Regions from separate parts of the Homo sapiens genome. Here region 1 is linked to region 2. Evidence: fine-mapped expression QTL. Tissue or cell type: naive CD8 T cells. Region 2 holds a variant in brackets; the other region holds the start of a gene. All regions are shown on one strand. Distances are from middle to middle. Region 1 holds the start of MRPL32 (mitochondrial ribosomal protein L32). Region 2 has its middle 14 kb from the start of C7orf25.

Region 1 (15,245 bases), 38 kb after region 2:
AAGTTATCCTTTATTTCAACCTAGTTGTTTAAATGGAATCATCATAAACCAACCTAATTTCATAGATAAAGTCTGAGTGAAAGTAATTTGTCCAAAGTGACACAGCTAGGTCCTTATCTCCCGTCTACTAATGAAAATATAAATTTCAGAAGGCCGTATTTTCTCTTCATATAATTACGAATATTCCCTTGGTCACTCAAATCTCAACTCCATCCCTCCTTGCTCCAAACACATAGACTACTCTCAGACTTCAAACGCCTCATTGACAAGCTAATCCCTCCATCTGAAATGCATTTCTCTATTGCCCTGTGAACTCCTTTCATTCAATCATGTCCTAAGGGAAGTTGCCCTGAACCCTCAAGATTAAGTTGAATACCTATTCACTGATGCCTGTGATGTCCTGCACTTCCTCTTTGTCTAAGATTCATCATATCTGAATTGTTATTTTTTTTTTTTAGTAACAGGGTCTTGCTATGCTGCCCAGGCTGGTCTCAAACACCTCGTCTCAAGCAATCCTCCTGCCTCGGTCTCTTTATTATTTTTACAATATTTGTCTTCCTCAATAAAGTAGCTATGTTCAGTCAGGATTCCAGCACATAACCTAATACCAGGAATCCACAATCATTTGGCTGACAGAGACACATCTAGACCAATTAAAGAAACAGACCTAAGGGTGACAGCTTTAAGGCTCTTGATATAATTAATTTGAGCAGAATAACATCAACTGACATTTAAATTAAAAAATTAGGCTGAACTTTTCCTTTAATAGTCACTATTTCAATAATCATATCATAACTTTCTGGGTCCATCCAGCTTTCAATTATTGTTCAATACCTAATTCATATACCCCTGGGTAACATTTAAAGGCTCATGTAAACTTAATAGCTACCATTTCTCTGTTCCTATTACCTGTACATACCTATCTTTACCACTGCATGATTTCACTGCGTGAAAGCTCACTAACCTGTGAGCTGGCTGAGCAATCAACCATCTTTATATTCCATAATGCCACTATCCCATTCCATAGCATCAGCATCCCTACATGGGATAACTGAAATAGCCTTCTAACTGGTTTTCCTCTTTCTCAACCTTACTTCCACCCCCAGCCAAAGTTACCTTTGGACCATGTCACCTACACTTAGATTTTGTAATAACTTCTTTGTTCACGTAAAATAAAATCTCCTTCTCTGGCCTACAAAGTCCTACACGATTAGCCCTCTCCCACATTATCTCCTTGCTCACTATAGCACATTTGCCTCATTTTTATTCCTTTAAGAGCTCAAGCTCCTTCCCAGTTTCAGGGCTTTCATACATGCTGTTCCCTCTGTCTACAAGTCTCCTTATTCCTGAATCTTCAAATAGCTGGTTACTTTTAATCTTCCAGTCTCAAAAATCACCCCCAAGCACAAGCCTTTCCTGATTACTCAATCTAAAGTCATATTCCTTCCTTCACCCATTTAAAATAAAATTCCTTAGTAAGAGAATGTATTAGTAGGCACCAATTTGTTTACTCATTTATTGTCAATTCCTCAACCAAATGTAGTCCACAAGAACTGTTTCATCCTGTATGGTCTCTAGTCCCTTCCACCATTAGTTTACTTCTGATTATGAGAGGCTAGAAACAAATATTTTCTTTTTATCTAAAACAGGTGAATCCACCATGTTAAAACACACACACACACACACGCACACACACACACACACACACACAAGTTTGGTTTTTTTAAAAAAAACTTTTAGATATGGGGTATCACTTTGTGACCCAGGCTGGAGTGCAGTGGCAGAATCACAGCTCACTGAATCCTAAACTCTTGGGTTCAAGTGCTCCTCTCGCCCTCAGCCTCCCAAATAGCTTGGATTACAGGCACATGCCTGGCTAATTTTTTAATTTTTTTCAGAGATAGGGTCTTGCTGTGTTGCCCAGGCTAGTCTTGAACTCCTGGGCTAAAGTGATCCTCCTGCCTCAGTCTCCTGAGTAGCTGGGATTACAGGTGTGAGTCACCCTGCCTGGCCAAAAGTTTATTTTAATAAAGAAAATTTGTTATAAAAAGATTCAGTCCCTGAAGGTATACGGTTGTTTTATGTTTTCAGCTCCACTAGGATTACACTTTCTTCGCGATAAAAGACCACATTTGCAGCCTGGGCAACATCGCAAGACCTCATGCCTTAAAAAAAAAAATTAGCAGGCAGGGTGGTGCACACCTCTAGTCCCAGCTACTCCAGAGACTGAGGCAGGAGGATCCCTTGAGCCCAAGAGCTGGAGGCTGCCAAGTCCCTGTCCCTAAAAAAAGGACCACATTTGTTTTCTTCATAAATAGGAACAGTGAATACATCCTGCACACACTATTCTGTCATATGTAATATAATGAGACCTTTTATTGCATAATTAAATTAATCTCGTTCAAAGGTTACAAAAAAACTATTACATACACCCACTGCTTACTGAAAACTGCCAAGAGAAAAGTACTTTTGGAATTTAAGACAACGTTATGTAATGGAAAGTGTATTTTTGTTATCAGAAAAAAAACCCAGTTTGAATGTCAACTCAGCTACTCACCGATGACCTTAGACAAGTTGTTTAATTTGTACAAGCTGCGGTTAGTTCATCTGTAAGAAGCTGAGATAACATTCATTATAGCAGTGGAAAGAGATGGAGCAGGTTAAGGTTAAGTTGCACCTAACAAAGTACTCAACAAGTTAGATCCCGCCTGCCTTCAGTTGTCAGGAGTACATTTTAAGTAAACTGGGCATTACTGATCCTTAAGAAAATGGGTAAGTCAGAAAACTTCCCCAGTCAATTTTTAAAAGTCTTCGGCGATGGTTTTCTCACGTTGAGAGCCATGGTTCGCCCCAACTGTATTTTGGAAAGTAAACTTATTATTCTAATCCCCTTTTCTACAATAGAAAAACCTACAATCTTGTTTAAAGTAAACATCCCCCTCCCCGACGTTCCCCCCAGTCCACCAAAAAAAGACCAAAACTCAAACTTGCCTCGTTGTTAGGGGTTCACAAAAAAGTGATAGGGGCTTTCGGTTTTTAGTCCTTATGTTTCTAATTCGTGCATCGAAGAAACCGAAAGCGGGAGGTTTTGAAAGACACTAGTGCCAAATGGAGACCAAGACTCCGACTTAACTGTAAAGCTGAGAGTTTTCCAAGAAAAGGGAACCCCACATATTTGACCAAGATTCCAAGTTTCAGAAACCACCGCATCAGGTCTACTTGAGCCAGGAAAAAAATCCTGAGTTCGGAACGGGCCACCCAGAGATGGTTAAGCTAAAACTGCCTTCTTTTCTGGTCTCCAAAGTGAAAGCGAATCCTTGGCTATGTGCCTCACCGTCCCGCAGCCCCATGTTAACCCCGCAAAACCGCATCCCCCCGACCCTCCAGCAGCCTCCGACCAAGGAAGCTCCAGGAATCCCGGGTCGGCCTGGCAAATGACTTTGCAAAGCCGCATTTCCAACTCCATTCCCTACTGGACCCTCCAGAAGCACCAATGCCGACGTCAGGATGGGAAAAACTAAATCGACAGAGTACCAGCAACCTCGACTACGCTGAAGACCTCGAGGGCCCCTTCCATACCTGAATGTAGTCAGCGAAAAGCTGTACCCGCGCTCCGCCATCTTTACCCGAAGAGCCAAAGCACAGCCGCACACATGCGCACTGTGGCCGATTTCCTTTCATTTCCCCGCCCCTCACCTTTCCTTTACTCTCTATGATTGGAGGAGAGTCAGAGCTGCTCCAAGAGCATGCGGGGTGTTGTAGTTCTAAGAAGCGAGGCTTGCCCGATTCTGTGCCTGTGCGCATGCTGAAAGCAGGGGCGGGACCGGGGCGGTCTTCCAGCAGGGAAAATGGCGCTGGCCATGCTGGTCTTGGTGGTTTCGCCGTGGTCTGCGGCCCGGGGAGTGCTTCGAAACTACTGGGAGCGACTGCTACGGAAGCTTCCGCAGAGCCGGCCGGGCTTTCCCAGTCCTCCGTGGGGTAGGTAAAGAAGGGCTCCGTGGGAGAGGGGGCTGATGACGGGACCTCGGGCAGCGTAGCAGACGCAGCTTACACAGTTCGCCCTCAGCCCCGGTTCTGATCCGCGGCCTCATGTCGGGGACGTAGTTCGTGACATTCCCATATTAGCGAGAACAGAACGACTGTTTTTGCGCTCCCTCCACCGCAAAAAAAAAAAAAAAAAAATTCCTCTGCTTGTTCCATTCGTACACAGAATGTAACCCAAGCTTGTGTCAAAGATAAATCATAGCCAGCCAGTAAGTAAAGCGCTGAAAACAGATTTTATTCAGTAACTACTGCAGGTAAAGAGCTGAGCTCCATCCCGGTTTGTGCAGAGGTGACTTTGGGCGTTTTAAAGGGAGAATGAGCGAGGCGGGAGTGTAGGGGCTCTGTAGAGTCAGAGAAGTGTAGTATAGTGAAGTCAGTGCAAATGTGATTAGCCGGCTGTGTCTGCTAGCTCGCAGTTGTCTTAGGGAGAATTCTATCCTCCCGCAGAGACTGGGAGACAAAGGCCCTATCCTTCCTAATGATTAGATTTCGAAGGAATGGCTCTCAGGGCCTTGAAAGAAAAGCTTCCGAGTTAGTTGCAAGGGATACGTATTTACAATTATATGCCCTTTCCAGGAAATGCTCTAAGGGAGTTCGGGACCTACTATCGGGGTATGTTGGCCAAAATAAATAGGAAATTTTCCAGGCAGCGTTGAGCTTTCTCAGGCAGGCACTTTAAAGGGGGGGCCGAGGTCATCCTAGGATACAGCCTTATGCTGCTAGAAACTATGCTAGAGTTTGGTCAAGTCTGTGGAGTTCAGGGATTTGTACAGAGTTGTCCTGAGAGGACAGTTCTGCAGGTCTCACTTGGCATCAAGGCTCACCACTCTCTGGATCTGTCTTTCCTTTCCAGCCCTGCCCTCACCTCCCCTCCCGCTTCCCCTCTCCCCCCTCTCCTCTTCCCTTCCCTTCCCTCCCTTCTTTCCTCCCTTCCTCCCTCCCTCCCGCGCAGTACATGTTTTCTGTGGTGTTTGAGCTCTGAGGAGCTGAATTCTGTTTCCCATGTTTCACTTGGAATTAATTTTAATTGGAAGTATCTTGGATGTTGAAACTGTCATGGCTTTGGCATTTACATTCTACTCAATTTCTAAGCAGCCTGAAAGTGATAATATCCAGAAATATACCAAGAAAATATATGCCACTATATGCCAAGCAATGTGCCAAGCTTTCTACATGTACTTCCTGGGATAATCTTGACAACAGTCCCATTAGGTGTATACACTTTCCAACTGAAACAGTAGGCTCACAATGGTCCCAAGTTCACAGACAGTCCTGAGCCTGTGTTGTTAATCACCGGGGCATGCTTGGCAATACTTGTGGACATACTGAAAATAAATGCCAGTTGTTAAGTGTTAGAGAACTTTGTGTATTTTTAAGAGTTCTTAAGATCAAAAGAAGTATGTGGGCTGGGCGCGGTGGCTCACACCTGTAATCTCAGCACTTTGGGAGGCCAAGGTGGGTCCATCACCTAAGGTCAGGAGTTCAAGACCAGCCTGGCCAACATTGTGAAACCCTGTCTCTACTAAAAATACAAAATTAACCAGGCGTGGTGGTGCACACCTGTAATCCCAGCTACTTGGGAGGCTGAGGCAGGAGAATCACTTGAACCAGGGAGGCGGAGGTTGCAGTGAGCCGAGGTCACGCCACTGCACTCTAGCCTGAGTGACAGAGTGAGACTCAGTCTCAAAAAAAAAAAAAAAAAGTATGGCACGTCTAAGAAATAGCAAGGAAAGGGTAAAGGAATGTTGATTTTATAAGCAATTCAGAAAAAGAGAAACTTTGATAGTCACATAAATAAGGCCATACAGAGAAATGGTGAGCTGGCTCTTTTCTTTAGAGAGCAGACAGGAATCAAGATTAAATGTTATGAGGAACTAAGTGACTTAAGAGGTTGTATCATAAAGGACCTGACTCAGTTTGAATATAAGAAAAGGCAATTGGCAGTTACATCAGTGCCGGTCAGAAGTGTATTCAGGAAATCTGTCTAGATTTACTTGTAAATTAATCAGGTACTTACTACCCGCCAAGTATTAATAGAATGTGGACAGTTGAGTGATTCTTTGCTTGTTTTGTTCAAGTTAGGTGCCTATCAGAGTCCTGTATTTTATGAGATAAGAAACTTGATGGAATTTCACTGATCTTCTTTTCAGCAGGATCCGCTAAGAAAAAATTCTGTGTTCCTTAAAATTGTATAAGCTTTAGTGTATTTTAATAGCTAAGGTTTCTCATTATTGAGTTTCACATTCTAAATTTTATATATAGTTTTTGTGTGTGTGTATGTTTGACCATTGATTGTTAAGGAAAATGATATCTGTAAATAGTAATTTAGAAGCTAGAAACTAATTCTGTATCTCTTATGTTTTATTTCCTAGGACCAGCATTAGCAGTACAGGGCCCAGCCATGTTTACAGAGCCAGCAAATGATACCAGTGGAAGTAAAGAGAATTCCAGCCTTTTGGACAGTATCTTTTGGATGGCAGCTCCCAAAAATAGACGCACCATTGAAGTTAACCGGTGTAGGAGAAGAAATCCGCAGAAGCTTATTAAAGTTAAGGTAATGCATTGATTTTTGTGGGTGTGCTTTTCCTCAAGTCCTCCATTGAATAAGCTCATGGTAGATTCCTATAGCCTAGGAATAAATTATTATCAGATTATATGTGTCTACTTTCCTCTGGCCTAAATGAAATACAGTATTCTCATTATATACATAATGAGAAGGCTAGAGCCTGCTGTCCTCTAGCCTGAGTATTAGAAACACAGTCAAGGAAGGAGTGAGTTTGGAGACTGGGCAAGGAACGAGGCTGTGAGGTGCCTACATGACTTCTGAATTGTGAGCTGTGTCAGTCTTGAGCTGTGTGAGTTTTGAACTACAGATGAGTAAACATCCTAACTATGGCAGAGCCTAGAATTAAAGCTAGAAGCAGTAGGTATACTGAATCTTGGGTTTTACAAGCCCTTACATATTTGTTTTATTTTTTTATCATTTCCAACAAAATACCATGAAGGAAAACCCTAAGATAAGTAATATAATAGCTAACAACAATTAAGTGTCTATGATGTATCTCAGTGCCTTATGTTTATTATATCTCATCATGTCTTATAGCCCTCCAAAGCAAATAAGATATTCTTCATTATTAGGATGAAAAAACTGAGGCAAAAAGAATTTGCCTGTGGTCACACAGCTATGAAGCAGTAGATTTTCGAGCTCTGATTTTTGACCTCATGTTCTTTTAAAGATTTTCTTTGTGTTCTCCTATCCTCAGACAATTTCAGATTCTCCTCGCTGACAACATGGATGTACTGTCTTCATTGATCTAGTAAAGAAAAATTACAGTGTGTATTACCTCTGATCTGTTCATGTATGGTTTTAACAGTTAGGATTTCAGTTACTGTTTACTTCATGGCGTTCCACAACAGCAGCACCATACAGATGAAACTCGAGAACAGAAAGCTGACTTTCATAAGCATCCACATTCTGTTAAGCAAAACCTTAGAACTTAAGCCAGAAAGTATTATTGAGTGATGGTTGGGGCTGAACTTAAATGTAGAACTGAAAAACACTTTATTACTTAAGACTTACAGTAATTCATAAATTTGCTCAAGAGGACGTAAGATTTTAGGAATGAGATCTTGCACTGATCTATTATGTGACTTCCCTGATCGCATTTATTCTGAAGGAATAGTTCTTATCCTGTGCATTTATTTTCTTCCTTGAATTATTTTCTGTTACATACGGTATATAGTGTGTTATGTTGGGTACTTTGATCACGAAAGGAAGACCAGCTGACTGTGGGTGTCTTCATACCTTCAGTTGTGCATGCAATCCAGTTTCCAGTAGTGGAGCAAAATGAGAATATGGTTAGGCAAGTAATATACAAGCCTCTTTCTTCCTTTCAGAAAAGGAAATTCTTTTGTTATCTGCCTCACAAATGTTAGTATATTAATCTTATCAAGTGTTTAAAGCTTCTTTAATGATCCTGTTTAGTATTTTTCTTTGTATTTTCTTTCAAACCTACATCTAGAATAAGTTGATAAATCTTTTAGAGGTTATAATGTTTCTATTTTATATTTAAAGTTGGAGATATATATATATCTATATCTATCTCTATATATATATATATACACACACATATATATATCATTAAAATACCCTAAGAATGTAACATAGAAAATAATTTTACATTAAGGAATAATCAGTGTTCATTTTTAAAAAGAAAAATTATACCATATACGAAACCTGTATTCTGTACAGGAATTTGAATTACACTGTGATAAAAAGAGGAAGCCAAGGAAGTCAACTTGTAATGTTCTTATCTTGTTTTCCCTAAGATAGATTGAAAGACAAAGGGAATTCACTTTTCCTTGGTGTCTTATTTAAGATGCTGATTGTTTGGGTCACTTCATTATGTTGACAAATTCCTTATTTGATATTTAGTATTTGGAGTTAGGGGAAATGAGTATTTCTTTTTTCTTTTTTACATAACTACAACTGCTGTGTTTAAGTAAAGATACCAGATTCAGGTTGGCTGAATTCTAGTTCTAGTTTTTCTCTAATTCAAACTCAGTGTTGCTTGTCTTCAGTCTTCCTGTTAAAGTGAGGTGGAACTAGATGGTGTATGATGACCTCATGTAGCCTGAACATCCTAAGAAAGTTAAAATGTAAGCATTGCTCCTGTCAGTGGTTATTTGTTCGTTATATTGCCTCATGTTAAAATACGTTTTTGTTTATTGTTTTAAAGAACAACATAGACGTTTGTCCTGAATGTGGTCACCTGAAACAGAAACATGTCCTTTGTGCCTACTGCTATGAAAAGGTGTGCAAGGAGACTGCAGAAATCAGACGACAGATAGGGAAGCAAGAAGGGGGCCCTTTTAAGGCTCCCACCATAGAGACTGTGGTGCTGTACACGGGAGAGACACCGTCTGAACAAGATCAGGGCAAGAGGATCATTGAACGAGACAGAAAGCGACCATCCTGGTTCACCCAGAATTGACACCAAAGATGTTAAAAGGGTAACTTCACAGTAAATCATTTCTCCTGAAATAGAGGAAGATTCTTTATGTTGTTGTGCTTGTTTTTAAATCATCAGTATAGTTTAACACATTCTTTCTAAGCAGTTTTGTGTGGGATAATTTGAAGAATATATTATGAGTAAACTCCGAAAATTTTGTTTATCCAAAGGCTCAATGGATTATGTTTCTATTATATACAAGGTTTTAAGTAAACATAAAATTTCCAGAACAAAAATAAAAAATTTAAAATTCATAGCAAAAATTCTGTGTTTTGGCTTTGGTTTTGTTTGCCAGTGCCTTTTCTTAGACAAGAATACTTAACACAGATAACTCCATTTAAGTAACACATGGAAATAGGTTATTATTTGCATTTTTGGTATTGTTTTTTAAGATGGTAGGTGTGGCAGTAAGAATGGTTTTTGTTCTTATTTTTCTCTTAGCAAATTAAAATTGCTTTTGGAGGAAATTACTTTTATGAAACATACTAATTTACTTAGGTGATAGAAGTACTTCTTTACATTTTACATTAAATCAAAATCATATTCAGAATATATGAGATAGCCTATGTTTTGGAAGAGATTATTAGTAAAGATGTGAGCAGATTCCATAGCACACTGAAAATGTGATACGAATGTTCTTTGCATTTTTCTTTTAATATGTCCTTTTAGTTTATTTCACGTTTTATCAATTTTATCTCATTGTAACAATAGGCAATAGGCTCTTTAACTTAACTTTCTTTTTTTTTTTTTTTGAGATGGAGTTTCGCTCTTGTCGCCCAGGCTGGAGTGCAATAGCCTGATCTCAGCTTCACTGCAACCTCCGTCTCCTGGGTTCAAGAGATTCTCCTGTCTTAGTCTCCCAAGTAGCTGAGATTATAGGCGCCTGGCACCACGCCTAGCTAATATTTGTATTTTTAGTAGAGACAGGGTTTCACCATGTTGGCCAGGGTGGTCTCAAACTCCTGACCTCGGGCGATCCCACCTTCCTCAGCCTCCCAAAGTGCTGGGATTACAGGCATGAGCCAGTGTGCCTGGCCTTTAACTTAACTTTCTACAGTTAATTTCTTATTTTCTTCTACCTCTCTCATTCCTGTGTCCACCTTGAGCCCAAGGTTTGCTATTTTGTTTCTTGCCTCATTCAAAATGAAAAAAGTGAGGTAGCTATTTAAAACACATAATGATAAGCAACTTAGGGAATTATAGTTAAAGGTAACATCGGTAGACAAGATAAAGCCCAGGGAAGTATTTACAGCAAAAATACATGCTGCAGTAACCTGAACACATACTATATTAGGCAGCATATTTGACTCAACATTTTTTTTCTTTTTTTCTTTTTTTTTTTGAGACGAAGTTTCACTCTGTCGCCCAGGCTGGAGTGCAGTGGCACTACCTCGGCTCTCTGCAACCTTCACCTCCCAGGTTCAAGCAAGTCTCTTGTTCTCAGTTTCCCAAATAGCTGGGATTACAGGCACCGGCTACCATGCCCAGCTAATTTTTGTATTTTTAGTCCCGACCTCAGGTGATCTGCCCACCTTGGCCTTCCAAAGTGCCAGAATTACAGGCTGAACATTTTTTTCTTTGGAAAGAAAGAAGATTCACTTGCATGGATCAGTCTTCACAAAGTAAGACAGATAATCTAGAAGATGCATCACTATCTTGGTACTAAGGCCTGAAGTGTACTAAGGCCTGGGGCTTCATAATGAAAATTGTATAATGGCGCAATCTATGTTAACATTCCTAGAGGTAAAATCACCAATTTCATTGGGTATGGTATAGGCCAATGTTACGTTGAAGTGCAATTCAGTAAAAAATTTTTAAAACTTCCAAAGTGTTAGAATCCCAGCAAATAGCTCTTTCAAGGCTGGGCTTGATCTAAGCATTAAAAAGTTGAAATTCCAGAGGAATTGGTTATCTGCATATTATTTAGACAAACCTCTACAGATAATTATTTTTAACCCTGAGAAGTCATACAATGCTGTGTGTCAAAGATAGACTTGAGGTGGAATCAGTGGTTCATGAACACTGGGGATGAATATATTCAACTGCCTACTCAGTATCCTCAGTTGACTAATAGGTTGCAAAGTGTATCTCCAGGTAACAAATTGTCCTTTGATAGTACAGACTGAATGTATTCATGTATTGATCTGGCTGCTACAGATGTGAGAAAAAAACATTCTTATGTTGAAAGCTTAACCTCCAATGTGATGGTATTAGAAAGTGAGGCCTTTGAGTGGTAATTAGGGAATAAAGGTATACCCCTTATGAATAAGGCTGATGCTCTTATAAGAAGAGACGCAAGAGTGTTCTCTCTGCCCTCTGCCATGTGAGGCTCCAAGGAGAAGGCTGACTACAAATCAGGAAGCAGGTCTTCACCAGAACCAAATCTGCCAGCACCTTGATCTGGGACTTTCCACCTTCCAGAACTGTGAGAGATGAATCGTTGAAGAAACGCTGTTTGTTAATTTCTTAACAGGAGCTTGAGCTAAGACAGAGGCTCTATATGCAGGTAACCTAGTGAGAGTACGTGGGCAGAGTGACTGTTTTCTGTTTTCAATTCATGAATGGAGAAACTTATTATAAAATGCATCCCAAATTAGGCAATTATTAGATAGCAAAACCAGATATCTAGTCCATGTCAGAAAACCATGTCATAAAGGAGAGTACTTTCACTTTTACGAAGGGGTTGTCCCATCAAAGTTTTCTTTATAATACATTTTATCACTTCATGCCTCCAGTTTTTACTATGGCAGAAAATCATTATGAGTTGGAATTAAACCAATTATGTAACTGATTCAGGTTTTGAATTAGAAATTAATTCCCTTGTCCCTACTCATTCCCTACAACATGAAGATGTTGAGACATCTTACTAGGTTATTTTGGAAGGAGTCATTCTTGACTCTGACATCCCACCTTTTCTCCCTTTCACATCCAACCTGCGAGCAAATCCAAAAATCCCATTGATTCTACCCTCATTATATACTTAGAATCTGGCCATTTAACATGAAGATTTATGCATACATATTTTTTCTTGGGAAACCAAAAATAGTTTTGGTGCACTATGGATGACCCTAATGTAAATAAATTGTGATCTTTTAAAAATACGATTTTTTCATAATTTGTGTAGTGTGACTTTTAAGTTAAAAATTTATTATTTAAAGAGGTTCAATGAGTAGGGGCCTTTGTAACATTCATGATACGGGGATTGCCCTCCCACTCTCCTCAGATAACTGTTTTCTACACCTGCCTCCACCCTCCCATATGCAATTATGTTTCAGGGGCAGGATTTGCCCCTCAATATTTCTAAATCTGTGCTAAGGAATTCTGCTACGATTAGTGTTTTTCTGGCAAATACACAAACATAGATGCTCTGTCTTCAACTGCAATTTTTAGGGAGCAGTGTCATTCCATGGTCTAGATTAGTGAATAACATTTCCATCTTGCCTTTGAAACAGGATGGTGTCGCTTCCAGCTGCTGTCCTCTCGTTTTTTCCACAAAGGGCATCCAGAACAGCAACAGCTAAGGCAAATAGAGAGATATTCCCTGGTGCTCAGTGGAATGTCCCTGGGCTACTCTTTACCTTACTTCCAACCTTCGTGTTACCCTGCCCCTGTGTTCCTCTGCTGGCCCCGGTGACGGTCTGTGCACTCACCTCCTCCACGTTTGTGGAGTCGCTAGTAAGCATTAGGCATGCAATTTGGAGGTAGGACAGGAAGAAAGCTAGAGGGTTAACGAGTTCCAGTCTCTGGACCCTGGTGTTCAAGCTCAGAGCCAGCTTTACAGTTTCAGCCTTTAAACTCACATGAGGAACTGCTACAGTTTACTAGGCATCAGCAAGCCGCTCCACTAGGGGGCAGCAGGTGAATTGCACTGAAATTCTCAAATGAAATAATAAACCATCAGGTACAGCAATGCTGGGGACATTGTCTGTTTCTGCCAAAGCCATCAGCCTGTGGCTAGCAGACAGGATTACTGCAGGGGGAGAAAAGGCTGTCTGCAACGCTGAGTGAAAGCTAGAGGCTGCCAACAAAACTGAGCCTCCCTATCACTGTGTCCAGGGCTTCTCTCCCTCCGCCCTGGGTCAGTTTGCTCTCGCCAGTGTTCCCTCCTTGATCCTCTTCTTTTCCAACCCTACATCCTTGGGTACATGCAGCCAGCTTAATTCTAAAATCCTTTCCAAGAGCATCTTTCAGGATAAAAACTCTTTTCCAATATTCCCCAATATTACATTTCGGTAACTAAAAAGAACTACTGATTTTCTCATTGACATTCTTCTAATCAGTAGTTCTCAACCAGGGATGATCCCCTTCCCACCCCAGAGGACATTTGGCAATGCCTACAGACATTTTTGGTTGTCACGCTGGGGTAGGGGGGTGAGGGATGATGAGAGCTACTGCCTTCCAGTGGGTAGAAGCCAGGGACGATGCTCAATATTTTCCTCTATCAGACTCAATAACACTAACTTTTTTGAATAAAAAATGTGACATGAAAATATTTTAATTTTCTAGAAGTCTCAGTGAGCCATCTTATTTTCTTCCATAATTTAAATATGCAGTGATGACCCTCAGGTCTGTGTATCTAGGTCTCATTTTTCTATTAATCTCCAGACCCATGTTTCCAAATAATACGAGATTTCCATTAGAACGTCACATAAGTCTCAGTAGATCATAGCCTAACAACTTTTCCAAATCTCTCCCTGTAAATTTGCTTCTCTGATAGCCTAGCTTGGTTCGCTTATTCATTCAACAAATATGTCTAACATTTCTCCAACCATAGACTACCTCTGATTGACTAATGGACATTTCGGGGTTAGCATATTGAAAACGGAACTGCTGATCACCCCTATCCCTTACCCCACTAGCCAAACTTGTACCTCATCCAAACTTTCCCACCTTGACACAAATCAAATTGCTCCAGCAAAATCCTACTCATTCTTGATTTCTCCCTTCTCATCCCACATAAGCAACTCCTTTGACTCTACCCCCATAACATATCCTGAGTCCCAAGTGGCATTCAGTTTGGAATGACAGGAAGGGATGCCAGTGTAAGGAGAATGTGCTGGGAAGGGGCAAGAAGGGATCTAGGGAGACAGGCTAAGGGTCTCTGGAAGAAATCCAGGCTGAAGATGATGTAGCCCAAATCAGAATGGTGGCCAAGGACAGAAAGAACTAGAGGAAATAGAGATACATATTTCAGAAGTGGAATTGGTGAGGACTTGGTTGTAGAAATGCAGGAGAGGGGAAAACAGGATAATTCCCAGGTTTCTAGCTTGAGTAACAGAGAGGATGTGATTAGGGAGCCTGTGAGAGGTGAAGGCAGATTATGCAGGAAACTCAAGATACCCATTTTCGAGAAGCTACATTTGAAATACTTATTGGACATCGAAACTGAGATGGCAAGCAGGCTAATGGATATGTGAGTATGTAAATTTGGAAGCAGTCAGCAGATGGAGTGTATTTAAAGCCATTAAAATGAATGAGATTATCCACAGCAAGTACTTATGAAAGAAGAGAACCCGAAACTGAGCCCCGAGGAGAGGGGTAGCCTGTCGAGGAGGACATTAGACTGTCACGCCACAGATTCCAAGAGGGAGAGCATTTCAAGAAGAGGAAACCAGCCATCCTGTCAAATGCTGCTGGGAGGTGAAGATGAGGATAGGAAAGTACCCAATGATTGTGGCAATTGGAATTCATCTGCAAGATGACAAAAGTGATTTTATTTCAGTGTTGATGGCAGAAGACAGACTGGAGTGGGCTAAAGAGAAGATGTTTGCTGAGGTGGTAGAGGCCGTGTTCCTAGACAGTTCTTCCCAAAAGTTTTCTTCTGCTAGGGAGTAGAGAAATGAAGCAATAGCTAGAGGAAGATAGGGAATTAAGAGGCCACTGTGTGTATGAGTGTCTGTAAGTGTGTGCACTGCAAACTGAGAGATCAATATGTATTTATGCTGCTGGGAATTATCAAGTAGGAGAGGAGACTGTGGATGCAATGAAGCCAGGTTCAGGGGAGGTCTTTAATGCAGCTCCATCATGAGAGGATGGGCCTCAAGGCTTGCGCTTATTAGGAAGAAGAATGCATTCTCTATTGTTACACCTGAAAGTTGAACCAGGAGGAGGACCTAGGACAATACCCTAGAAGCCTGATTCATTTTCATGCTTTTCTGGAATATGTTGATATGGTTTGGATCTGTGTCC
Region 2 (15,703 bases):
ACTGCAGTTCGCCTCCTCCTCTAAAAGAACACAGTACACCTTTTCAGACCTCTGCAGCTGTGTCATCACATGCAATCTTTAATTAATCTTAACGACATCCACCTTCTCCAGGAGCACTGGTATGAGAGTACATCCAGGACATTCTCAGCCAAGGAGACTCACTTAATACATACATTGATGACATTCGAGACCAATATTTCTTAGTACTTTTGGGTTTTGGTGGCAACATATTCCTCATTTATAAATTTTACTTCTAAATTAAAGTCTACAGACACTCCTGTAAGTGACTTCTTAAAAAAAAAAAAAGCCTTTACTGTAGAGTCTTCTCAACCTTTTCAAATGCCTCCTGCAATCTCTGGATATTTAGGATAGCTATCAGTTGCCCCAGGATTTCTGATACGAGATATTGCCCCTGTTGGCCTCATGCTATACAGCATTAATACAATAGATGACTGGCCCCCACTTACTGGGCTGTCCCAGAAATAGAGGCTCTCCCAGACCCTGAGCCTGTGACCCTCTATACCCAGCTGCCCATTATGCTTTGGGCCATGGAAACAGACCCCACAAGCTCAACACAGCTACTGAGGCTCCCTAAGACAGATGGGAACAAACCTGGGTCCTCTGGTATATTCTACCCACAGGAGGGTATAGCTTCCCCTGTTCTAAGCCCCTTGCCAGACGCCAGGGTGCTGGAGGATGACATCCCTCCCCTAAACCCCTTGACTACTAGGAAGCCCTGTGGATTAACTGAGTGACCAGTAAAGGGAGTTCATAGACTATGTGAATGGCACTGCCAGCCCCTGTGCATGGTGGAGCCTAGTGGAATGTGCTGCTTTCCATTCCTTAGCCAGGATGTCCCTAATAAAGGATGGGGCCCAAATACAACGCACGTGGCCAAAACTCCAGGTGGTCATCTTAGCACTGGATACCCTGGTCAACAACTGGTCCTGTCTTCATGTTTATTATAAACTATTAGGCCATTACTGAAAAATTGGCCCCTCAAGGATAAAAAAAAAAAAAAGAAAAAGAAAATCTCTGGGAATCTCTTACTTCGCACTCACCCAAAACATAAATTAGAATCATACTTCTCCACTTAGAGTTGAGGCCACAATGCAAGGCCGTGCTAGCCATGCCTTATTCCCTTCAGAGTCATGGCTGTTACTAACAGTAACCAAGGCACACAATTCACTTCTTAGAACACATCATGCTGGGCTCCTGAGGAACATTCAATAGAACTTTCATGTCCATGACAGGTCCCAAATGACTGGTCTCAATAAGAGACATCATGATGGTTTAAACAACTCCTTTTCAAACTTCAATACCACAAATAAACTAAAGTTCTCTAGTTTGCCCCTGGCCTTAACCTACTTTTTTTTAACAATTTTTTTATCTTGTCCCCATCCCTTAAGGTCTGTAGGTCAGATCAAGGACATAGACTCTCCTGGGACTCATTAACCATATATTGTCCCACAGGCCTGGCAGCTGCTCATCTTATATGAAACCCATTTGAACCTAAATGTCCACCCAAAACAAAACCCTGTCAGGTGCAGCTGCACACCATTTCTTTGATTGTTGGTCTTATTACTATCAGTTTGGGTGCTTTCATTGGTTTACAACTGGACACCCAAACCCTCCAGTAGTAGATCATTGTTTCAACCAGTTATGACAAATGCTGAGGCCCGCACCAACTCAGGTGCCTACCCATTGAGACATCTCAGTCTCACCTCCTGGAGGACACTGCCCCAACTCAAGACCTCAGCGTTGGAGATGACTTTGCTCCCTGTGCCAGACATGGCTTCACTCTGGACACTAAAATCTCCCCCCAGTGATACTCACAGACTGCCTCTCCAAAAGCAGAAAACGCACATTTATTATTTTTCTTCCTGAACTCACTGTCTACCTGATCCTGCTATACTTCTTACTCTCTGCTACCTCCACACTCCCATACCTAAAGGGAACTCATAATACAGGTTACTAAAATGAATGAAGATTATTGCCTTTCCCAGGAGACACCAGCCCCATGTCAGTCAATCGTGTGGCTCCCTGGGGAGATGACCACCTACTCCCTGAAATCTTTCCTACTAAGCCCCTCCAGTTTTCACCACAATCTCTCACCCTGCATCTCCGAACATCACCACTATGATCCCTCTCTCCCCTTACTCTTGAGAAATCTCCAGCACTCAACCACAACTGCCTTAATTTTGAATAAGATGCTGAGGCACCAAGAGGTGAATTGCAGTGGATTTCATTCAAAATGAAACCTGAAGCCATATATGGACTTAACTGACCAATTAAATATCATGATTTTCAAATTTGATCACATAGCAAAACTCAAACCTGTGCGATAAAACAAGAGACATATTTAAAATATAATAACTCCAAGGACTAGATTGCAGCTCTGGACAGAGCAGCATGCGGAGGCTTGCGCTGTGAATTTTAGCTCCAGATCAACTGCAAGTAAAAACCAGCAATCCCAAGAGGACCCACAGACCCTCTGAAGGAAGTAGGCTGCTCCTGCAGCCGGGGGAGACACCCCAAATACTGTGAGTGCCCCAACTGTGGAAGTGGGAAAGGGTGACCCTCCTCTCCCAAATACATATCCTCACTGGAGAAGCTGAAGATCTGTTTGCAGGAGAAGTTTCTGACTTTACCTGGAGCTGAGTCAGGTTAGAGAGCTGAGCAAAGTGCAGGGGTAGAGGAAGCAGCAGAAAGGCCCTGGGAGCTCTCTGGGTCCCCAGGCAGCCCATTCCTGCCTGGCACCACAGCGATCCATCGGGAGGTTGGCCAGAGGAACAGGGGGGTAAACCTCCACAGGGAGAAGGAATTCTCTACCCGAACTTTGTAACAGTTTGAATGGGGGAGAAGCCTCCTGGCCAGAACTCAGTGGGAGGGCACAAATTGGGCATGTAGAATTCACAGGCCAGGAAGAACTAAAGTCCTTTTCTCTCACAGCTGGGAGGCAGATAGCCTCGGGCAAATTTTCAAGCCAGTCTTGCCTTCACCTGGAAATGGACTCAGGATGTTAGGGGGGTGCATGGACTCAGGATGTTGGGGGGTGCACGGTGGGAGTGAGACTGGCCCTTCAGTTTCCATGGGAGCCGGCAAAGGCCTGCCATTGCTGGCTTTCCCCCACTTCCCTGACAACCTGCATGACTCAGCAGAGGCAGCCATAATCCTCCTAGGTACACAGCTCCACAGCAGCTGCAGCAAGACAGGCCCAAGGAGAGTCTGAGCTCAGACACCCCTAGCCCCACCCCCACCTGATGGTTCTTCCCTACCCACCCTGGTAGCAGAAGACAAAGGGCATATAATCTTGGGAGATCTAGGGCCACACCCACCGCTGGTCCCTCTCCACAATACTACATACAGCTAACGCTTTCTGGAAAGCACCACCTCCTGGCAGAAGGCCAACCAGCACAAAAATAGAGCACTAAACCACCAAAGCTAAGGACCCTCAAGGAGTCAATTGCACTCTTTGCCAACTCCACCAGAACAGGTGCTGGTATCCACGGGTGAGAGACTGATAGATGGTTCTCATCACAGGACTCTGTGCAGACAACCCCCAGTGCCAGTCTGGAGCCAGGCAGACTCACTGGGTGGCTAGACCCAGAAGAGAGACAACAATCACTGCAGTTTCGCTCACAGTAAGCCACATCCATAAGAAAAGGAGGTGAGTACTACATCAAGGGAACACCCCGTGAAACAAAATAATTTGAATAACAGCCTTTAGCCCTAGACCTTCCCTCTGACAGAGGAAACCCAAGTGAGAAGGAACCAGAAAACCACCCAGGTAATATGACAAAACAAGGCTCTTCAATACCCCCAAAAAAATCACCGTAGTTCACCAGCAATGGATCCAGACCAAGAAGAAATCCCTGATTTACCTGAGAAAGAATTCAGGAGGTTAGTTATTAAGCTATTCAGGGAGGGACCAGAGAAAGGTGAAACCCAATGCAAGGAATCCAAAAAATGATACAAAAAGTAGAGGAAGAAATATTCATGGGAATAGGTAGCTTAAAGAAAAAACAATCAAAGACTCAGGAAACTCTGGCCACACTTTTAGAAATGTGAAATGCTCTGGAAAGTCTCAGCAATATAATTGAACAAGTAGAATAAAGAAATACAATATCACAATCCAACAAAGACAAAGAAAAAAGAATAAGAAAATATGAACAAAGCCTCCAAGAAGTCTGGGACTATGTTAAACAACCAAACTTAAGAATAATCGGTGTACCTGAGAAAGAAGAGAATTCTAAAAGCATGGAAAACATATTTGGGGGAAGAATTGAGGAAAACTTCCCCTGCATTGTGAGAGATCTAGACAGCCAAATAAGAGCAAGAACACCTGGGAAATTCATCACAAAAAGATCTTCACCGAGGAACATTGTCATCAGGTTATTCAAAGTTAAGACGAAGGAAAGAATCTTAAGAGCTGTGAGACAGAAGCACCAGGTAACCTATAAAGGAAAACCTACCAGATTAACAGCAGATTTCTCAGAAGAAACCCTACAATCTAGAAGGGATTGGGGGCCTTATCTTCAGCCTCCTCAAACAAAACAATTATCAACCAAGAATTTTGTATCCAGCAAAACTAAAGCATCATATATGAAGGAAAGATACAGTCATTGTCAAACAAACAAATGCTGAGAGAATTTGCCATTACCATGCCACCACTACAAGAACTGCTAAAAGGAGCTCTAAATCTTGAAACAAATCCTGGCAGCACATCCAAACAGAACCTCTTTAAAGCATAAATTACACAGGACCTATAAAACAAAAATACAAGTTAAAAAGTACAAACAACATACAAAAACCAAAGTACACAGGCAAAAAGGGCATGATGAAAGCAACAATACCTCACATTTCAGTACTAACATTGAATGTAAATGGCCTAAATGCTCTACTTAAAAGATACAAAACAGCAGAATGGATAAGAACTCACCAACCATCTGCTGCCTTCAGGAGACTCATCTAACACATAAGGACTCACATAAAGTAAAGGCATGGGGAAAGGCATTTCATGCAAATGGACACCAAAAGTGAACAGGGGTAGCTATTCTTATATCACATAAAACAAACTTTAAAGCAACAGCAGTTAAAAGAGACAAAGAGGGACAACATATAATGGTAAAAGACCTTCTCCATCAGGAAAATATCACAATCCTAAACATATATGCACCTAACGCTGGAGCTCCCAAATTTATAAAACAATTACTAATGGTCTTAAGAAATGAGATAGAAACAAAATAATAGTGGGAGACTTCAATGTTCCACTGACAGCACTGGACAGGTCATGAAGACAGAAAGTCAAAAAACAAACAATGGATTTAAACTATACCTTGGAACAAATGGACTTAACATGTATATACAGAACATTTCATCCAACTACCACAGAATACACATTCTATTCAACAGCACATGCAACTTTCTCCAAGATAGACCATATGATAGGCCATGAAATGAGCCTCAATAAATTAAGAAAATTGAAATTATATCAAGCACTCTCTCAAACCACAGTGGAATAAAACTGGAAATCAACCCCAAAAGGAACCTCCAAACCCATGCAAATACATGGAAATCAAATAACCTGCTCCTGAATAAGCACTGGGTCAAAAACAAAATCAAGATAGAAATGTAAAAATTCTTTGAACTGCACGACAATAATGACACAACCTACCAAAGCCTCTGGGATACAGCAAAGGTGGTGCTCAGAGGCAAGTTAATAGCCCTAAACACCTACACCAAAAAGACTGAAAGAGTACAAACTGACATCCTAAGGTAATACCTCAAGGAACTAGAGAAACAACAACAAACCAAACCCAAACCCGGCAGAAGAAAGGAAAGAACCAAGATCAGACCTCAACTAACTGAAATTCAAACAAACAAACAAACAAATACAAAAGATAAATGAAGCAAAAAGCTGGTTCTTTGAAAAGATAAATAAAACTGACAAACCATTAGCAAGATTAACTAAGAAAAGAAGAGAGAAAATCCAAATAACCTCACTAAGAAATGAAACAGAAGATATTACAACTGAAATACAAAAGATCATTCAAGGCTACTATGAACACCTTTATGCACATAAACTAGAAAATCTAGAAGAGATGGGTAAATTCCCGGAAAAATACCGTAGCTTAAATCAGGAAGAATTAGATACCCTGAACAGACCAATAAGCAGTGAGATTAAAGTGGTAATTTAAAAATTATCAACAAAAAAAAGTCCAGGACCAGACAGATTCACAGCAGAATTCTACCAGATATTCAAAGAAGAATTGGTACCAATCCTTTTGACACTATTCCACAAGATAGAGAAAGAAGAAACATACCCTAATTCATTCTGTGAAGCCAGCATCAGCCTAATACCAAAAACAGGAAAGGACATAACCAAAAAAGAAAACTACAGACCAATATCCTTGATGAACATAGATGCTTAGATGCTAAAATCCTTAACAAAATACTATCTAACTGAATCCACCAATATGTCAAAAAGATAATCTACCATGATCAAGTGGGTTTCATACCAGGGATAAAGGGATGGTTTAACATACACAAGTCAATAAATGTGATACACCACATACAAAGGATTAAAAACAAAAATCACATGATCATCTTAGTAGATGCAGAAAAAGCATTTGCCAAAATCCGACATTCATTTATGATTAAAACTATCAGCAAAATCGGCATACAAGGGACATACTTTAATGTAATAAAAGCCGTCTATGACTAACCCACAACCAACATAATACTGAATGGGGAAATGTTGAAAGCATTCCCTTTGAGAAATAGAACAAGACAAGGATGCCCACTTCACCACTCCTCTTCAACACAGTACTGGAAGTCCTACCCAGAGCAATCAGACAAGATAAAGAAATAAAGGGAATCCAAGCTGATAAAGAGGAAGTCAAATGTCACTGTTTGCTGACGATATGATCACTTCCCTTGAAAACCCTAAGGACTCCTCCAGAAAGCTCCTAGAACTGATAAAAGAATTCAGCAAAGTTTCTGGATACAAGATTAATGTACACAAATCAGTAGCTCTTCCAAACACCAACAGCGACCAAGCAGAGAATCAAATCAAGAACTCAACCGCTTTTACAATAGCTGTAAAAAAAAATAAAATACTTAGGAATATACCTAACCAAGAAGTCAAAAGACCTCTACAAGGAAAACTACAAAACACTGCTGAAAGAAATCATAGATGACACAAACAAATACAAACACATCCCATTGCTCATAGATGGGTAGAATCAATATTGTGAAAATGACCATACTGCCAAAAGCAATCTACAAATTCAATCCAATCTCCATCAGAATACCACTATCCTTTCAAACAGAATTAGAAAAAACAATTCTAAAATTCATATAGAACCGAAAAACAGCCTGCATAGCCAAAGCAAGATTAAGCAAAAAGAACAAATCTGGAGACATCACACTATGGGATTTCAAACTATACTATAAGGCCATAGTCACCAAAACACCAGGGTACTGGTATAAAAATAGGCACATAGGCCAATGGAACAGAATAGAGAACCCAGAAATAAACCCAAATACTTACAGCCAACTGATCTCTGACAAAGCAAAACAGAAATATGAAGTGGGGAAAGGACATCCTTTTCAACAAATGGTGCCGGCATAATCAGGTACCCACATGTATGAGAACGAAACTGGATCCTCATCTCTCACCTTATACAAAAATCAACTCAAGATGGATTAAGGACTTAAACCTAAGACCTGAAACTATAAAATTTCTAGAAAATAACATTGGAAAACCCTTTCTAGACATTGGCTTAGGCAAGGATTTCATGACCAAGAAGCCAAAAGCAAATGCAATAAAAACAAGGATAAATAGCTAGAACCTAATTAAACTAAAGAGCTTTTGCACAGCAAAGGGAACAGTCAGCAGAGTAAACAGACAAGCCACAGAGTGGGAGAAAATCTTCAGAATCTATACATCTGATAAAGAACTAATATCAGGAATCTACAACAAACTCAAACAAATCAGTAAGAAAAAAAACAAAAAATCCCATCAAAAAGTGGGCTAAGAACATGAATAGGACAATTTCCAAAAGAAGATATACAAATGGCCAACAAACACATGAAAAAATGCTCAACATTGCTAATGATCAGGGAAATGCAAATCAAAACCACAATGTATACCACTTTATTCCTGCAAGAATGGGCATAATAAAAAAATTAAAAAACAGTAGATATTGGCATGGATGTGGTGATCAGGGAACACTTCTACACTGCTAGTAGGAATGTAAACTAGTACAGATACTATGGAAAACAGTGTGGAGATTCTTTAAAGAACTAAAAGTAGAACTACCATTTGATCCAGCAATCCCACTACTAGGTATCTACCCAGAGGAAAATAAGTCATTATTCAAAAAAGATACTTGCACATGCACGTGCATGTTTATAGCAGCACAATTCCCAATTGCAAAATCATGGAACCAACCCAAATGCCCATCAATCAACAAGTGGATAAAGAAACTGTGGTATATATATATATATACACACATATATATATATATACACATATATATATATATATACACAATGCAATACTATGCAGCCATAAAAAAGGAATAAATTAACATTTGTAGCAACTTGGATGAGATTAGAGACTATT[C/CTT]TTTTTTTTTTTTTTTTTTTTTGACACAGAGTTTCACTCTTGTTGCCCAGGCTAGAGAGCCATGGTGCAATCTCAGCTCACCACAACCTCTGCCTCCTGGGTTCTAGCCATTCTCCTGCCTCAGCCTCCTAAGTAGCTGGGATTACAGGCATGCACCACCATGTCCAGCTTATTTTGTATTTTTGGTAGAGATGGGGTTTCTCCATGTTGGTCAGCCTGGTCTTGAACTCCCGACCTCAGGTGATCCGCCCACCTCAGCCTCCCAAAGTGCTGGGATTACAAGTGTGGCCACTGCGCCCAGCCTAGAGACTATTATTCTAAGTAATGTAACTCAGGAATGGAAAACCAAACATCGTATATTCTCACTGATATGTGGGAGCTGAGCTATGAGGACGCAAAGGCATTAAGAATGATACAATGGACTTTGGGGACTTGGGAAGAGTGGGAGACGGTGAGGGATAAAAGACTACAAATATGGTGCAGTGTATACATGGGTGATGGGTGCACCAAAATCTCACAAATCACCACTAAAGAACTTACTCATGTAACCAAATACCACCTCTACCCCAATAACTTATGAAAAAATAAAAAATATATATAATAATTCAAGGGCTAAAAAGTAAAAAACATATAAAAAGAATGGAAAAAGGTATACTAGGCAAATTAATATAATATTCACCGGGAGGTCCTGATCTTGATATCAGACAAAATAAAAAGAGTATTAAGGATGACAAAGATAGATACTTTCTAATGATAAAAGCTGTAATTCACAATTAGAAGTTAACACATTTTTTATATACCAAATAAATAAAGAGCAATTTGCACAAAACAGAAACTATTGAATATTCAAGGAGGTGTTACTATACTTTCTCAGTAAGATAGATTAAATGAACCAGAAAATGAGAATATATAAAAGAAATGAACAACATAGGCAGGACGCGGTGGCTCACGCCTGTAATCCCAGCACTTTGGGAGGCTGAGGCAGGCAGATCACCTGAGGTCAGCAGTTCAAGACTAGACTGGCCATCATGGTGAAACGCTGTCTCTACTTAAAATACAAAAATTAGCTGGGAGTGGTGGTCAGCACCTGTAATCCCAGCTACTCGGGAGGCTCAGGCAGGAGAATCACTTGAACCTGGGAGGCAGAGGTTGCAGTGTGCCAAGATCACGCCATTGCAATCCACCCTGGGCGACAAGAGCAAAACTCCATCTCATCTCAGAAAAAAAAAAAAAAAAAAGAAAAGAAAAATAAATGAGCAACATAATCAAAAAGGCAGCCCTAAGAATAAATGAAAAGTTCACAGAAAAAAATAAAAATGCAAATATCCCTTAAACACAGAAAAAGTTTCTCAAGCTCATTCTTAAAAGGGAAAATGCAAATAATTAACTAATTAAATAATGTCATAGTGAGACAATACACTCTACTGATGAAGCTATGGAAAAACAGTCACACTCAGACATTACTGTTGAGAATGCAAACTGTTAAAATTCCCAATCAGAGACATTGGATAATACCTGGCTACCAAGACACCCTTTGACAACAAATTCTTACTAGTGTAGATGCACTTCCACAAGGACAAACAACAACAAAACAAAACCACAAACTATGCACAAGCTATCCTACTGGCTTTATTTGGAAAAGCAAAAGATTGAAAACAATGCAAACATCCATCAGGACGGGGATAGTGGCCTACCCTGTGGCCGACCCACACAGTACTATGCCCCTTTCATAGGCTTTATGAGGACCACTATCAGGAGGAGTAACCTCAGGCTTATATTTTTAAATGAAAACAAAAGAAGACAAATTGCTACCTCTTATGAAGAAAAGGAATGGGAAAAAAAAACTATTTGTATGTATGTGCTTTATGTGAGAAAGAAAAGAAAAAAGGAAAGAGGGAGAAAGGAAGAAAGAGAGGAAGGAAAGAAGGGAGGGAAGGGGAGTGGAGGGGAGACTAAAGAGGTAAAAAGAGAGGGACATATAGAAACAATACATTTGTGATGGCAATTTTTATATAGTTTTTGCTTTTGAGCCACAAATTTTATATCCTTATATTTTAAAGAATAAAATTAAGTCAAAAAAGAAAACTCTAAAATTGAAAATAAACTAGAACAAATGAAGCTCACTATATATCAAATTAGTAACATAGCCTCATAAAATAATACAAATCATATGACTTTAAAACAGTACTTTAACCTTATATCTGGGCTAAAAGGACAGAAGAACTGCAAAGAAATATTCATATTGATTCAGTGACTTTATTGTAAGCCGTAATAATCATATTTTGAAACTTTTTTATGTATAGCATAGCATAAAGCAAATAAGTATGTTAGGAAAAAAGATTTGCAGAGCAAGAGACAAAAGTTTGAAATTAATGTTAAGTAAAAATCTGGGAATGTTATATAATGTTAATTTTGATCTTCCCCATCAGTTGAAGATATTTTAATTAATTTGAAATATATAAACATTTCCATTTTGTGCATTGCAAGAGCCCAGGATCAATGACAACTGAGTGGCACTGAGTACCCCTAGCCCTTGGACTTTTCTTTGGAAATGCCACGAACTAGGAAAGGCTCCTTGAAGAAATAGTGGATTCCAGGTCTCAGGCAGAAAGCACGGGCAACTCTGAGACACCTTGTACTGCCAGAAAGCATGAAATCAAACAGCATGGGATTATGTGAAAAAGACACAGGAATCTTGAACGCGTTTCTACTGGCCAAAGTTTGGACAGTCAAAGCATCAAAAAGAATGATAAATAAAAGGGCAACATGAGAGATCCTACAGTAACGGAAATACTCGGCATCTTGACATCATCAACATCAATATCCTTGTGATATTGTACTACAGTTTTTCAAAATGCTCCCACTAGGGAAAACTGCGTAAAAGGTACATGGGTTCTCTCTGTATTATTTCTTACAACTTCACACGAATCTATAATTATCTCAAAATAATAAGTTTAAAAAAGTAAGGTAATTGATGTGGGCATATTTGAAAATATAATAATTCATGAGTCCAATATAGTACTCACAAGATAGAATCTTCCTCCTAAAAGGTTCATTTGATGTTATTGGAGGTGACCATAACATGAATCCCTCATTCTGAAATCATTAACTGGAGAGAAAGAATCAAGGATACATATTGCCCTTCCAGAAGGGGAGCCAAATGGCCCCAGTTCCTAAGGGAAACCTCTTCTTTATGGAAGAATGATAACTGATAAGTGTAAAGGAAATGATAGAATTGGGGAAATCACCATTTTGTCACTTGAATGGAATATTTCATTAGGGTTATAATCATCAACGCATGCTAAAATCTTAGGCAAAAGGGCAATGGGTAACTGAACATTCACAGTGGCGCCAAAGCATGACTTCACAGTTTACTTACTAGTCATGAGGGCAAAAACTAACTTCACAATGGAGAGTTCTGGCTGTTACCACCTTATTCAAGGAACAATACTTAACATCACTAACAGTGGAAAAACCAGATATTATGTGCCCCCTCGTGTAACGAAAATGAGGAACACAGTATCAACCACAAAGTATTCTTGCCCAAAATGTTTAACCAGAATTGAATCCAGCCTTTAGATATCCTTTTCAGTTTACAGGAAATCAAACTGACCACTGGAAAATAATCAGAGAAATCAAGAATATAGAATATTCTGTAAGACAACTGTCCTGGTGTCTTCAAAAAACTCAGTCATAAAAGGGTAAGGTAATACCATAGATTGCAACAGAATTAAGGAACGTTAAACCCAAATGCAATATCTGGTGTTTCACCGGATTCTGGTAGACAAATCCCCTGACATCTGAATATAGATTGGGCACTAGATGATGCTCAGAATTATTAATTTCATTAGATGTACTCATGGAATCATGGTTGTCTAGAAAAATGTTCTTTTTAGAGCCAAGTACTGAGGGATATATGTTAAATATCATGATGTCTGTAATTTATTTTAAAATAATTTCAGCAAAAGAAAAACCTAGAGAAAGCAAGTAAGGCAAAATAATGACTGTTTAAACCTCGGTGAATGGTACACTGGTGTCCGTATTCTATTCTATTTTTTTGTCTGTATGTTTGCAAAATGATTTTGTTCCCTCTCCACCATGCTATCTAATTGTCTCTTTTAGGAACAAATAAACTTTAATATCAGTTAGAAATATTTTCAGCTACATGTAATGGAAAAGCCAACTACAGTGGCTTAAATAAATTGGGATTGATTTTCCACATAGCAAGAAGTCCTGCGGGAAGCATATGTCAGCACCAAAGCCTACATGCCGCACTTGGTCTTTCTCTCATCACCATAACATGGAAGCAAGTACAGCCATCGACCACATCGGACCCTGTGGTGGAAGGAGAAGGCAGCACTATTGCACTTCCACTCGTGTCTCAGAGGCAAGGAATCTGGCCGCCCCCAGCTAAATGCAACACTGGGAGCATGAGGCTTTTAGTCTCCAGTCTCTATGGCACAGGCAGGCAAAGGCGGTGAGGATGGGAACCCGACTTTGTGCTCAGTCCATGTTGTCTGCCAGAACCTTTGATGGAGTGGACTCATTTTTTCTCCATGTCTCAGCATCTTGTTTATATTTTTCATCATTTAATTTATTTGTTGAATCCTGGGAAATTCTATTCATTTCAGAATTCTTTTAGTTTATCTCACCTACTATTTTAAACTTTATTTCTGAGATTGTAATTTTAGTGAGTTTTTCTATTTCCTGAAGTTTTATTTGCTTGTACTCTTTCCTTTTTTTTCTTTTCTTCTTCTTCTTTTTTTTTTGAGACAGTCTTGCTCTGTTGCCCAGGCTGGAGTGCCATGGCATGATCTCAGCTGTCACCTCCACCTCCCACGTTCAAGCAATTCTCCTGCCTTAGTGTCCCTAGTAGCTGGGATGACAGATGCACGCCACCATGCCCAGCTAATTTTTGTATTTTTAGTAGACGGGGTTTCACCATGTTAGCCAGGCTGGTCTTGAACTCGGGACCTCAGGTGATCTGCCCACCTTGGCCTCCCAAAGTGCTGGGATTACAGGCGTGAGCCACCACACCTGGCCCCTTATAGTTTCTATGCCTTTTTTTTTATCCCCTTTAATCATTTGTTATTTAGGTGAAGAGGGAAATGCCTTTTTTCCCCATTCTTACTTGCATGATGGCAGGGAAGTGGAGGCGTTATATCCCCCAGCATATGCCTGGCCCTTCTCTCCTGGGAATATAGAGAAATGTATTTGATTGCAAGTTTCAGACGAATGCCTGGAGGCTTGGCTTGGCTCATCTCTGCGCTTTTTCCTTTTGTGAATAAGTTTGCCACAGGGTGAGGTGTTCTCTGCAGCCCTTTTGGGACAAGCTCTCCCTGTCACATGCCCCAGAATTACCTGCAATCAAGTGGTTAATGTCTGCCTAATTCTGGGCTTCAGTATTAGGAAACATACTTGCTGCGCATATACACCACATCCTCCACCTGAGCTGTGTGTGCAATGTTTGGTTGCAGCCTCCCTCTGCTACTTTGAATTACTACTTCTTTTTGTTTTTTGTTTTTTTTTCAGAGGATAGGGAACACTTAGAAGATCCCAAACTTACTTTCTTTTATATTTTGCTATTATATATTTTTACATATATATTCTATAATATCATATATTTTATTTTAATGTATTTTGTTATAATCTTAAGTTCTTGAAGAACTAATGCTCCTCTTTATGTGTTGCTGATTTGCTGGTGGTGGAAGGTTTCCTTCTACGTTTTGACTATTTCTCACTGTAAGCGCATCCAATCAAAGCTCAGTTTTTCTATAGACATCTACGTAGCCGGGAAACTAAAATGTCCCTAAGTCCAGAATGAGGTTGCGTATGTTGTTCTCAGGTGTCTGAGAGATAGCACTTGCCAGCGGCCAATTTTTATACTAATTTCACATCTCTGGGTTTCCCCCATGATGCTGTTAAATGACTTGAACTCTATGTGGGACACAGTCTGGGCTTTGATTTCTTTCAGAGTTCTTCCCCCCGCCCCACCACCCCCACCCCACACCCCACACCCGCCCCCAGAACCACTGGAGTCAAACCCTTGCTGTGTCCCTGGGCAAAGTTTACAAGATCCTCTTTCATGGGCATTACAGCCTTAAGGTTCTGGTTCACTCAGTGGGGGTCTTGGGGTTACCTCTTTACCTCAAGCAGGCCTCATGCCTCTGATTCTATCCCAGCATGAAGGTTAATCCCCACATCCCTACTATAACGGTTGGGAACTCATCCTTGCCTTTCTTCCTCTTGGGAACAAGATTCCCGGGCACAGTGACTCACACCTGTAATCCCAGCACTTTGGGAGGCCGAGGTGGGTGGATCACCTGAAGTCAGGAGTTCAAGAGCAGCCTGGCCAACATGGCGAACTCCCGTCTCTACTAAAAATACAAAATTAGCTGGCCGTGGTGGTGCATGCCTGTAATCACAGCTACTCAGGAGGCTGAGGCAGGAGAATCAATTGAACCCATGAGGTGGAAGATGCAGTGAGCCAAGATTGTGCCACTGCACTCCAGCCAGGGCAACAAGAGTGAAACTCCATCTCAAAAAACAAAACAACAACAACAAAAAGATTCCCACAGCGTGAAATGTTCTCTGCCTGAATCCATTTTGTCTGCAGTGCCATTTTGTCTGGGATGTTTATGTATCTTTTTAAACTGAAATTTTGTTCCAGCTTCTTTTTTATGCAATCTTGTCAGGTTTCAGTATCAGAGTTATACTCATGTTCTGTAAAATGAGTCTGAAAACATTTCCAATACAAGGATGACCTGAGACAGTCAGCCTGTTATTACATGAGTCAAGAAACACCCCATGGGCTTCAGTCCCATACCCAGGCCCTGTTCTCAAACAGGAGAGCAGGCCAAAGTTCTCCTCTTGGGGCAGAGGACAGGGAGTAAGAGGAACAACACATCTTACCATGTTACATTTCAACCCCACTTACGGGGTTATGCTCCATATTACCTTTTAGAGCACGGGGATTATTCGGTATTTAAAAGTAGGAAAAAACTTGTCTAATAAAGTTAACTGCATCTGCACATATTTTGGAGAAATTACTTAACTTCTTTAACAATTTTT

The links. PIP is the estimated chance that this variant, and not a neighbour inherited with it, causes the effect.
Region 1: it holds the start of MRPL32, and the variant in region 2 is fine-mapped to the expression of MRPL32 in naive CD8 T cells (Schmiedel 2018, PIP 0.95).

What each region holds. Positions count from the first base shown.
Region 1 is chr7:42,928,539-42,943,783 of GRCh38, forward strand. It overlaps MRPL32 (mitochondrial ribosomal protein L32), which reads left to right and starts at 3,838. Exons shown (of 3, transcript NM_031903.3): 1 at 3,838-3,978; 2 at 6,417-6,598; 3 at 8,784-9,319. The coding sequence starts at 3,849. The coding sequence ends at 9,038. PSMA2 (proteasome 20S subunit alpha 2) reads right to left here and starts at 3,636. Exons shown (of 8, transcript NM_002787.5): 1 at 3,580-3,636. The coding sequence starts at 3,620. RefSeq lists an enhancer at 3,787-4,016.
Region 2 is chr7:42,890,400-42,906,102 of GRCh38, forward strand. No RefSeq gene overlaps it. Among named protein-coding and RNA genes, the nearest start is that of C7orf25, 14 kb to the right of the region's middle. The variant C/CTT (reference allele first, on the strand shown) is at 8,633.